2 separate regions of the Homo sapiens genome follow, and region 2 is linked to region 1. Evidence: fine-mapped expression QTL. A gene starts in region 1. The other region holds a variant in brackets. All regions are shown on one strand. Distances are between the middles of the regions.

Region 1 (5,362 bases):
CAGAGGGAATGTATAGAACCCCTTTCCAGGTAAATGACATGCAGGATTGGAATAGCTGAAACAACTGGCTGTCTACCTTGTGCCAACTGCCTTCTCTCTGAGCAGTAGGATTTACACTGCTGAGAATGACAGGTCCATGGAGCACTGCAGGTTGTAGTCATATTTTATTCTCCAGGTGGGCTATCGGCTGCCCTTCACTTCCCTGAGGCAAGGAGGAGGAAAATCTGGCATTTGGAGAGTCAGAGGATCATCAGGCCCATGGACTTGGCACAAGGCTTCAATCCAGGAAGGGTAGATCCATATCGGAGGTACAGGAAGAACTTGAGGCTGAAACTGTGTTCTCTAAAGATAGCAGGCTGCTCCCTCGCCCTTTCCAACCACAGGCCTCAGTCTTCTCCATAAGATGAGCGAAGTGCATGATGCCAAATCACACCACAATTGCAAGCAATTAGAAGCTTAGTGTCTGCCTTCCCCTCTAGAAAGTTAGTTCCATGAGGACAAGAGCTGGTTTTGTCCTGCTCACTGTTGTACCTACAATGCCTGTGATGTTGGAGATATGCACCATACTACTGTGAAAGGGAGGGACAGAGACAGGGAGGGAGGAGGAGAAACTGAATCACAAAGGAAGGTCACATAAGAGCTATGGGGTGGGGTGAGATGGGGTTGCAGAGAGAAGAATTCTATGTCTGAGTCCCTGCCCACCCTGACCAGAACACTGTGCTATTTCCACAGATGGCTGGGAGAGATGCAACATTGCTGCCCCTCAGACCCTAGCGTCAACTGGGAACATTTGAGGAGAAAGGAAATTTGATCCACAACACAGGGTAAGGTGTGTCTTGGGCTCAGAAAAGCACCTTGTCTCTTCCTTCTGGCCATGCTCAGGCTCCATGACCCTTCTGATGGGGTGCTGGGCAGGGATGGAGGGCCCTCCCTGCTTCCTTCCTCCTCTTCCTGAAGCCCTCCTCTGCCTCAGGAGGTGGATCTTTCCCCCTTTCTCCCCCACACAGAGCCTGATTGCTAGCTTGCTTCTCAGGGGGTTGGTGAATAAGCCCTTGGGTGACATTAATTGCCATCAGGCATTAGGGGCCTAATGAGAATAATCTTCTTTGACGACTCCAGCACCTTCTATCCCCAGGGCCTCCAAGAGCTGGCCAGCTCTCCTCAGGCTGCACCTCCCCCCAGCTCCAGACAGATGTAGGGGTGGGGGAAGGGCCAGAGCAGCCCTCTACAGGCCCCAGTACCAAGCGAGGCAGCAACAGCCAGCAGCCAGGGAGGAGGAAGCCTTCCATGAAAAATGCAAGCACATTTTCCAAAAACAAAATGTCACCGTCCTAGATGAAAGGAAACTCTCAGGGTCAAGAGGGCTAGCATGGAGTCAGGCAGATGGAGGGCACGGTTTGAGTGCCCCAGCTGGCTTTGCTCTGACCTGGCCCCACACTCTCACTCCAGTTGAGTGCAGAGGTATGGAAGGGTGACCCTCAAGATCCATATCCTCCCCAGTAGGGATATGTCCATGGGATTGAAGACCCTGTCCCTCCAGAGCAGGGTAGGATTGAAATTCACCCTCTGGGGATTGGAGTTGATACCCAACGAAGCTATAAAATCATTGCCATGGATCCGATGCCTGGTTGACAGATGAGGTGTGAAGGTTGACTTGCCGGGTCTGATCTAGGTTGCACTCTAATGGAAAGGGCCTGATGGTGGGAACAGATATCACTCCAGCCACCCCTCCCGCTAGTCAGCAGGTGCCTGGGTGAGTATGCAAGAGGGGCAGTTCCCCACCCCCACCTCATGCCTCTTTAAAGGCTTGCTAAACAACCTGTAGGAAAGCACTGTCCCCTCCTCTTCTCCGTCTTCCTTCCCCAGCAACAGAATAAATAGGTTTCCCACAGCTGCGCCCCGGACCCATCCCGCACGAAGCTGAGCCCCAGAGCCCCCGCGGCCCGAGAGGAGCTGGGCACAGCAGCGAGGCTGATTCCCAGCCAGTGCCCAGCGAACTCTGGGGGTGGGGGTAGGGTGCCCCCTACCCGCGCCTCTGGAAGAGCGGCTGCAAAACACCTCCGGCGCCCGGTGGGGAGCGTGCATCCTTTGAAAAGGGACATCAGTGACTGCGGTGGCGTCTACCCTGGAGAAACGCAGCTGAGGGAGGTGGAGGCTCCTCCCGCCGCAGCTGGCCGGCCCCATTCGGGTCCCAGCGCTAGCCGGCGTTGGGAAGGAAAAATCAAACATAAAATAGGGGCGAGCGGAATCGCGAGGTCGGCCCTTGGCCCGAGTCTCATTAAGGAGCCGCGCGCGCCGCCAGGCTAGGAATGCGGAATGGACACGTGGACAGAGGAGGGGGAGCTAGGAGTCGGGGAGTCTCCGTGGCGCGCGAGCTGTGGGCCGCGCGCTCGGGGGCCACGTGACCACGGGGAATCTGGGAGGGGTGGGAGTGAGCGCGCCAAGCTCGGCGCCCGCTTCTGCCCGGGTGGGCGCTGAATCCCGGACGGAGGAGGAGGGCGGGCGAGCGCGAGTGTGTGTGTCTCTCTCGAGTCATTTACGGCGGAGCAGCCGGCGCGAGCGCCGAGGAGGCGGCGACGGCGGCGGCGGCTGCTTCGTGCAACTGTGGCTTCCCCCACCTCCTCTTCCTTTTTGCTCCTCGATTCTTCTTCTTCCCCCACACACGTCCATGGGGAGCCGGCTCCCCTGCCAGCACCTCCTCTCCTCTCGGCCCCGTAGGCACCAGCTGCCGCTTCCCTGGCCGCAAGCTGCGCAGGTGCCGGCTGCCCTGGCCCCTGGCGCCGCGCCCGCGTCTCACCGCCCGCAGCCCGGACTGGCGCGGCGATCCGCTCGCCCAAACTGACTCGGAGGGAGCGGGAGCCGATGCCCGGCAGCATCGAGACAGCGGGCGAACGGGCGTCCGGGGACAGGGTGGGGGCGGCGGGGAGGAGGCGTCGGAGACTCTGAACCCCAGAAAAGTTCAAGGTTTGTGCAGGTTCCCCCAGGGAAGGCGAGGAGCGAGGCGGGGCAGCGCGCCTCTCTGCCGAGACAGCGAGACCTTAGCGGGGTGGCCCGGAGCTGCCGTGAGCTGCAGGAGCCCCTCTGCATCTTACAGCGTTTATGGTCATCAAGCTGGAGTCGACGTCCTGGGCAGGAAGGGCTCGGGGCAGGGCGCATTAGCCGGCTTTCTCGCTCCCTCGCTTCTCCAAGCCCCATCTACATGGGGCAGCCCGTTCTGGCCGCGCCACCCTTGCCCCAGCCGCCGAGCGGCTGCCTGGGCAGGAGGCGCTGAGCCGGCCTGTGTGGAGCCTGGGCCCTGATCCAGACTGGAGAAAGCGCGCTGGAGCGGAGGAGCGAGCCTTGCGAGGGGACAAACATCTGGCCGCCCGCCTCGGGCATCCGGTCTGGGCGTCGCCTAGGGTGGTGGCGACCGGCGTCGCCAGTTTCAGCACCGCACGGAAACTTTTCCTTCTCCAGATGGATTAAAGTTGTCTGGATTTTCTCTTTCTTTGAGAAAGACAGCATTCATTTGCACCTGACCTGGGATTTTTATGCTGGGCTGCTGCAGGGGCTTGGAGGAAGAAAGCGGCGCTATCCATGTGCGGTTACTACCGAAACCGAGGAAACTGGGGATTGCGTTGGAAGTCGGCACCCTCGAGTGAGTTCGGATTCGAGCTGGGCCGTGAGGCCGGGAGATTCAGCACTGGGCTCTAGGTAGCCCCCGGGACGCCCGCGGCCACCGGGCTCCGGACTGCACGTGCAGCTCCCCCCGCGCCTCGCAGATCCTGCAGGGGGCACCAGCTGGGGGAGGTGGAGGCTCCTCCCGCCCGGAGCTGCGCCCCCACCGGCTCCGAGGGTGTAGCCGCCAGCGCCTGGGACGCCCCCTCCCCGCAAAGTGTCCCCGAATTGCACTCTCTGGTCCCGGAGCTGCATCTGAGACAGCCGGGCGCCACGGCAGCCCTGAGTTGGATGTGACCAAGCCCAGCCTGGGGCCAAGTCGTCGTCGACTGTTGCTCTCTCGGACCCCTCCCGCCCCCGCCTCGGCCATGGCCCCGGGGATGTCGGGCCGCGGCGGCGCCGCCCTGCTCTGCCTCTCAGCGCTACTCGCCCACGGTAAGTGTCGCGGCGCGGACTGGGGGTGAGGATGCGGCAGGCGCCACTGGAGGGGGTACGGGGAAGACTGGGGAGAGGAGCACCCACACCCCCTGGACTCGCAGCCGCCACTCCGGGTTTGGCGTCTCTGGCTGCAGCTCGAGTTACCGCCAGCCCCCGAGCCCTCCGGCGAGCTCAGCTGAGGGGACCGAGCCCGGCGCCAGAAAAGGGTGGGGGGAGGGTGTCGCTCCAGTCCTCTCCTGGTTATAAAGAAGGGTTCGAACCCGAAGGTCTGGGGTCGTGTCCGCCCACGGAAATCTAGAGGGATCCGAGGGATCCTCCGGATCGCGTCCAGGCCGCCCCCCGCCCCCGTCTCTCCCTGCAGCCGGCCGGGCTGGGGGCTGTTGGGATCCGCCGGGATCGCGTCTTTCCTCGCCCCGGGCGCGCAGGCCGGTGCGGGGCCGCGCCGCCCGTCGCCTCGCTTCCTGCGGCGGTCCTCGGGAAGGGAAGTGGACTGACTCCGGGCCGGGGAGCCGCCGCGGCTCGCACGCCCGCGGTCCTGTGAGCTGCATCTAAATGGCCGGCTTAGGCGAGCCCGGAGGGCGGGGGTCTGGGCACCCGCACAGGCCGGGGCGGTGGGCCGCGGGCCGCGCGCGGAGGGAGCGGGCTCCGCGCTCTCGCATTCTGCAATCTGTTGCGTCTGCTCCCCAGGCTCGCCCCGGGCTCCGCGGTAAAGGGGGTGGGAGAAGGAGGGATTGAGGTTGGCGCGCTTTGGCGGTGGGACAGCGGGCATACGGGTGGGGGGCAGCGGGTTTTTGAACAGCCCCCAAGAATGGGAAATCAGACCAGAGGGAAGGAGGCTGCAGCGGGCCTTCCGCAAGCTGGAGACGCTCCAGGAGGCGAGGGGAGCAGACCGAGGTGGGAGGGAGAGAGCTCCGAAAGGAGAGTGGAGAAGCGGGGCCCTCTGCTCCCTCCTAACGTGAAACCAGCCGACCTGGGATACATTTTCTTAACCAGCAAGGCGTGGCGGGGTTGGGGGGCGGGGGTGTTTCGATGCTCCACGCTGAGGGGTGAGCCTCAGGCAGAATGGAGGGCGCTTAGATGGAGGGGGCAGTGGGCTCTCCGCATTGGTGGAGCGCCCTCGGTGTGCCGGGCTCAGCTCTTGCCCAGATCTGCCCAGTCCCTAAGAGCCTGCTCAAGCTCGCCAGGAGTGTGCCCAAGGTCTCTAACCAGCGGCCTCTTTCACCCTGACCAAAGCGCATTCTCAAGGTTGAGAGAATAAGAAAAAGAG
Region 2 (5,362 bases), 56 kb after region 1:
CAGATGCCCGCCTCAGCCAAGTGAAGGGCTGGAGGGTACCTATCCTCCCCGACCGGAGGTACAGCCCCTCTCCCATGGCGGATACTTGGGAAACTCATGGGTGGATACAGCCTCGGCCCACAGTCTGATCTGCATATGGGTATAAGGCCCTTGGTATACATAGTCTGTAGGTTGGTTGTGCAGTCAACAAGCTTTCATTGACCAGCTACTGTGTGCTAGGCACTGGCAAGTGTTTGAGAGATGGGGTGAATGTGGCCAGTGCCTGACCCTGCCAGTCTCTCAGTCCAGCAGGGGAGGAAGGCATGTGCATGCCACAGAACATGGTGGTGGGTGGGAAGCCCCGTGTGCAGGGAATCAAGTGGCACAAGGAGAGAACCCCCTCTCCCTCCAGGAGAAGTCAAGGCAGGCTTCCTGGAAGAGACAACTCTTGAGCTAAGTCTTAAAGGATGAACTGAAAGGAGTTGGCTGGGGAGACAGGTTAAGAGACTGCCTGCAGTCAGGCAGACAAAATGAAGCAGACACACCTGTACACATGTGTCCCAGCCTGGGCACACCAAGGGCACACTAGTGAGTGCATGAGTGCAGACACACTGTGACTCATACCCAGGCTCCCTTGCGGGCTTGTAGGCTCAGGCACCTGGGTGCCCATACGTGGGGCACATACATGTGTACTCACCGCATTCCAATCACCCACTCAGAGCTGCTGGAGAGAAAAGCACAGCAGGGAAGAGAAGAGAGGAAAGTGACAGGCAGCTAAGAGCAGGAGGTGGGCGGGGCTGGAGAGGGAAGCAGGTGGTGAGAGAAACAGGTGGCCAAGTGAGAATTGGGCTGAGTTCAACTCAGAGAGATTTGGAAGAGTAAGGTGTGTAGACCAGTGCCTCTCAAACTTTAATGTGTACACGAATCACCTGGGGATCTCAGTAAAATGCAGATTCTGACTGGGCAGGTCTGGGGTAAAGCCTGTGATTCTGCATTTCTCACCAGCTCCTGGGTGATAGCGATACTGCTTTGAGTAGCAAGGATGTAGCGGACTCTGAAGCCAGACAGCCTGGTTTAAGTCCTGCCTCTGCTATTTACTAGCTGTGTAAACTTGGGCTACTTACATAACCACTCTGTGCCTCCATCTCCGTATCTGTAAAATGGGCACAATAACACCTGCCTCATAGGATTTTTGTGAGGAATAAATTAATGAACCCAGGTAAAAGAATGCTCTGTGTGAATGAATATTCTGGTTGCTTGATCCTCCAGTACACTAACAAAGCACTAGCTACAGAGAAAAACACTTGGCTTTCTCACCAAAGCACACCTTCCTGGCAGTAAACCTCTCAATTTTAGCATTTTTTGCAACGTGCACAGGCTGAGAATTTCCCAAATCATCAAGTCCAGGTTCCCTTTTGCTTAACAGTTTATTTATGTGTCTCTCTCCTCTCACATTTGACTAAAAGCAGCAAGAGGAAACCAGGCCACGATTTCCACACCTTGCTTGGAAATCTCCTCAGTTAAATGTCCGAGTTCATCACCTACAGGTCCTGCTTAGTTTCCACACAACTGCAGGACACAATTCAGCTAAGATTTCTGGCATTCTGTAAGAAGGATCACATTTGCTCCAGGTTAGAGCTTAGAACAGTGCCAGGCACAAACTTAGTACTGAAGAAGAGGCAGCAGTTGCTGTTAGGATTTGACGCCAGCTATTCCTAGGCTTGGCTTAAGCCAAGAAGAGGCAGAGAGGGACAGGAGGTAGGGTCAAGAATGTACTTTTCTAGGAGAGAAAAGGCTGGGACTCCTGGTTCCCAACTTAGAGATGGAAGGCATGAGCCATAGAGGAAGCTTGCTTTTGCAGAGCTTCTGGGAAGCTGGGAGGACCCAACAGGGCAAGGGTGCGGGGTGTGTACTGTGCAGGTCAGAGTCCAGGTGAGAAGCCTTCAGCATGGCATGTCCCCACCCCAGGTCAGTCCGGGAAAGCGAGGATGAGGATGAGGAGGAGGAGGAGCGGCGGCAGAGTGCAAGCCGTGGCTGCACCCTGCAGTACCAGCATGCCACCCTGCAGGTCTTCACCCAGTTCCACACGACATCATCCGAGGGCACTGACCAGGTGGTCACCATGTTAGGCCCGGACTGGCTGGTGGAGGTCACCGACCTAGTCAGTGACTTCATGCGGGTGGGCGATCCCCGAGTGGCACACATGGTGGACAGCAGCACGCTGGCAGGACTGGAGCCAGGCACCACCCCCTTTAAGGTAGGTATGGGCTCTGTCCCAGCACAAAGGGGCAGTGTCGGGAGCCTTATTTACCTGTGGGTGCAGAACTCAGATTTTCCTAACCCCAACTGGCCCCCAGAACACTCTTCCCTGCCTGCCCCTTGTCTGAAATTCCAAGGTCAGGCTCTTTTAGCTTCATCTTGGTAAAAGTTCTCACTCCAAGTTGTATCAACCTTTATCAATCCTCAGTGTGGGTGACTCAAGCAGACCCCTCCCTGAGAGCAGAGGGGGAGCAGGTGAGAGTCAGCCAGCCTAGAGTCCAGGAAGGTGCATTTGGTGATCTAGGAACTCAACTTTGACCTTTCCTGACTTGTTTCTACCCTGACAATTGGGTGTCTGGATAGAAATCATCTACCTAAGAAACTGTTGTGATCTGTGGGCTAGAATCTGCCTGCAGACATATCTTCTTTGTAAAACAATTGATCCAATGTGTTTTAAATTGGGAGATTTCTCATTTAAAAAATATATAGAGATTTCTGGTTTCACAAAAAATGAATCTGGTAACAATCAGCTAAAGCCAGTATTGGTGCCTCCTATACACGAGAATGAGTTCCCTCATTTTCTAAGTTGTCGCCACTCCCTTTTGTCTCCCTGACATTGAGGTTGCACATCAATTGCTACTAGTCACCATG[C/A]GGGGGTTGTTGTTTTCCTTAGAATTGGCCCACCTCTCTCATTTGTGTTCCCGCCTGGCTCCTGTGAGCCCCCGACCCTCTCATGACCTCTGGACACTGGTTCCTGGTTGCAGACCTGAGGCAGAGCTGCGAAGTCCTGCCTCCCAGCCTGCCTCACCCTTCAGGCCCCTCTTCCAGCAGTGCTGGGATTTCTCCCTAGCTGGGGGTCTTGGGCAGGGGGGTGTGCTTTCCTGGTTCTCTCCCACCCCGGTCCCGCTCTGCCTCAGGTGGTGTCTCCGCTGACGGAGGCTGTGCTCGGGGAGACGCTGCTGACGGTGACTGAGGAGAAGGTCAGCATCACACAGCTTCAGGCCCAGGTGGTGGCCAGCCTGGCCCTCTCCCTGCGGCCCAGCCCTGGGAGCAGCCACACCATCCTAGCCACCACAGCTGCCCAACAGACCTTGAGCTTCCTCAAGCAGGTAACTGGCTCCTTGGCCCACCAGCCAGGGAGTTGGTGGTATGGAAGGAGAACTTGGGGGCTCTGCTTTGCCCTAGCACCAAGAGTCCCCATATTAGGGCTTTAGGAAATGGAGGATCTCTGCCCTCCATGCCCTGCACAACTGCCCACCCTATGGCCACAACATCTACATGGGAGGTCAGAGCAAGGTCTTGCTTGCTGCTCTTGCCACCTGAGATGTTCCCTCTGAGGGTCTCCCTCCTGGATTCACAGAGGGCTGTCACCTCCACATCACCCCCAGGAAGTACCCTCACTCAACTCTGGAGCCCCAAGTATACACCACAGGCATAGCCACAGGATGAAAGTGGAAAGGTGACAGATGAGAGTCCTGGGGAGTGAGGAGGTGACAGGTGAGAGTCCTGGGGAGTGAGGAGGTGAGCATCAAGTGCTGAGCCCGGAGTTAGGACACGGGTCCTCTGTCCCTAACTCACTCCATCACCCCAAGGCAATCACTTCTCTCTGAACCCTGCTTCCTCATCTGGAGGGAGGGCAATCCTCAGAAGGTTTTAGCCAACAGGCAGAAGTGGGGAGGGGGTGTGTATTCTCAACAGCCTGTTGTCTGATGGGGGTAAGCCCAAGGTTAGGCATGGAGATATGGAGCTATTCCAGCAGCAGAAGGGACTTGAATTAGACCCAAGGCAAAACTTACCTTTAGGTTATCCAGGGGAGAAGGGTGAAGTGGACAAGGGCATCCTCAGAGCAGTATGAGGCCTGGATGCCATGGTCTGGGATTTACCCTCCCCACACCCTGTGAGGAGGACTCTCACTTGAACAGTAGTTCCTGAATGCCCGCCACAGGTCACAGGCACAGTTCCAGTGCTGAGAATACAGCAGGGAGCCAGAGACCCGTGGTCCCTGCCCCTACAGAGCCCAGGATCTAGCAGGAAGCCAGCTGAACCAGCTCTTTGACTCCTATCCCCTCCTTCTCCTTCTCCTCCAGGAAGCCCTACTGAGCCTCTGGCTCTCCTACAGTGATGGCACCACAGCCCCACTCTCCCTCTACAGCCCACGAGACTATGGACTGCTAGTGAGCAGCCTGGATGAGCATGTGGCCACTGTGACCCAGGACCGGGCCTTCCCTCTGGTAGTGGCTGAGGCCGAGGGGTCAGGGGAGCTGCTTCGCGCAGAGCTAACCATCGCTGAGAGCTGCCAGAAAACCAAACGCAAGAGTGTGCTCGCCACGACCCCTGTGGGCCTGCGGGTGCACTTTGGGAGGGACGAGGAGGACCCCACTTATGACTACCCGGGCCCCAGCCAACCAGGGCCCGGCGGGGGCGAGGACGAGGCCCGGGGAGCTGGCCCGCCGGGCTCTGCGCTACCCGCACCGGAGGCTCCAGGCCCGGGCACCGCCAGCCCCGTCGTGCCACCCACAGAAGACTTCCTGCCGCTGCCCACCGGCTTCCTGCAGGTGCCACGGGGTCTGACAGACCTGGAGATCGGCATGTACGCGCTGCTGGGCGTCTTCTGCCTCGCCATCCTCGTCTTCCTCATCAACTGCATCGTTTTTGTGCTGCGCTACCGGCACAAGCGCATCCCGCCCGAGGGCCAGACCAGCATGGACCACTCTCACCACTGGGTGTTCCTGGGCAACGGGCAGCCGCTGCGGGTGCAAGGAGAGCTGTCGCCGCCAGCAGGCAACCCGCTGGAAACCGTGCCCGCCTTCTGCCACGGCGACCACCACAGCAGCGGCAGCTCGCAGACCAGCGTCCAGAGCCAGGTGCACGGCAGGGGCGACGGCTCCTCGGGCGGCTCAGCCCGAGACCAAGCCGAGGACCCCGCCAGCTCGCCCACCTCCAAGCGCAAGCGGGTCAAGTTCACCACCTTCACCACGCTGCCGTCAGAGGAGCTGGCCTATGACTCGGTGCCCGCGGGCGAAGAGGACGAGGAGGAGGAAGAGGACCTGGGTTGGGGCTGCCCGGATGTGGCGGGCCCCACGCGGCCCACTGCACCCCCGGACCTGCACAATTACATGCGCAG

What was found. PIP is the estimated chance that this variant, and not a neighbour inherited with it, causes the effect. A credible set is the group of variants that fine-mapping cannot tell apart.
Region 2: its variant is the best candidate, but not a certain one, in a credible set for the expression of TMEM132E in whole blood (TOPMed, PIP 0.56).

Annotation. Positions count from the first base shown.
Region 1 is chr17:34,577,052-34,582,413 of GRCh38, forward strand. TMEM132E (transmembrane protein 132E) reads left to right here and starts at 2,531. Exons shown (of 9, transcript NM_001304438.2): 1 at 2,531-4,092. The coding sequence starts at 4,026. It overlaps TMEM132E-DT (TMEM132E divergent transcript), which reads right to left and starts at 2,318. Exons shown (of 2, transcript NR_160787.1): 1 at 1,820-2,318; 2 at 1-569. RefSeq lists enhancers at 1,483-2,019, 2,020-2,555.
Region 2 is chr17:34,632,852-34,638,213 of GRCh38, forward strand. It overlaps TMEM132E (transmembrane protein 132E), which reads left to right. Exons shown (of 9, transcript NM_001304438.2): 6 at 1-58; 7 at 1,948-2,236; 8 at 3,156-3,347; 9 at 4,326-5,362. Among named protein-coding and RNA genes, the nearest start is that of TMEM132E, 56 kb to the left of the region's middle. The variant C/A (reference allele first, on the strand shown) is at 2,890.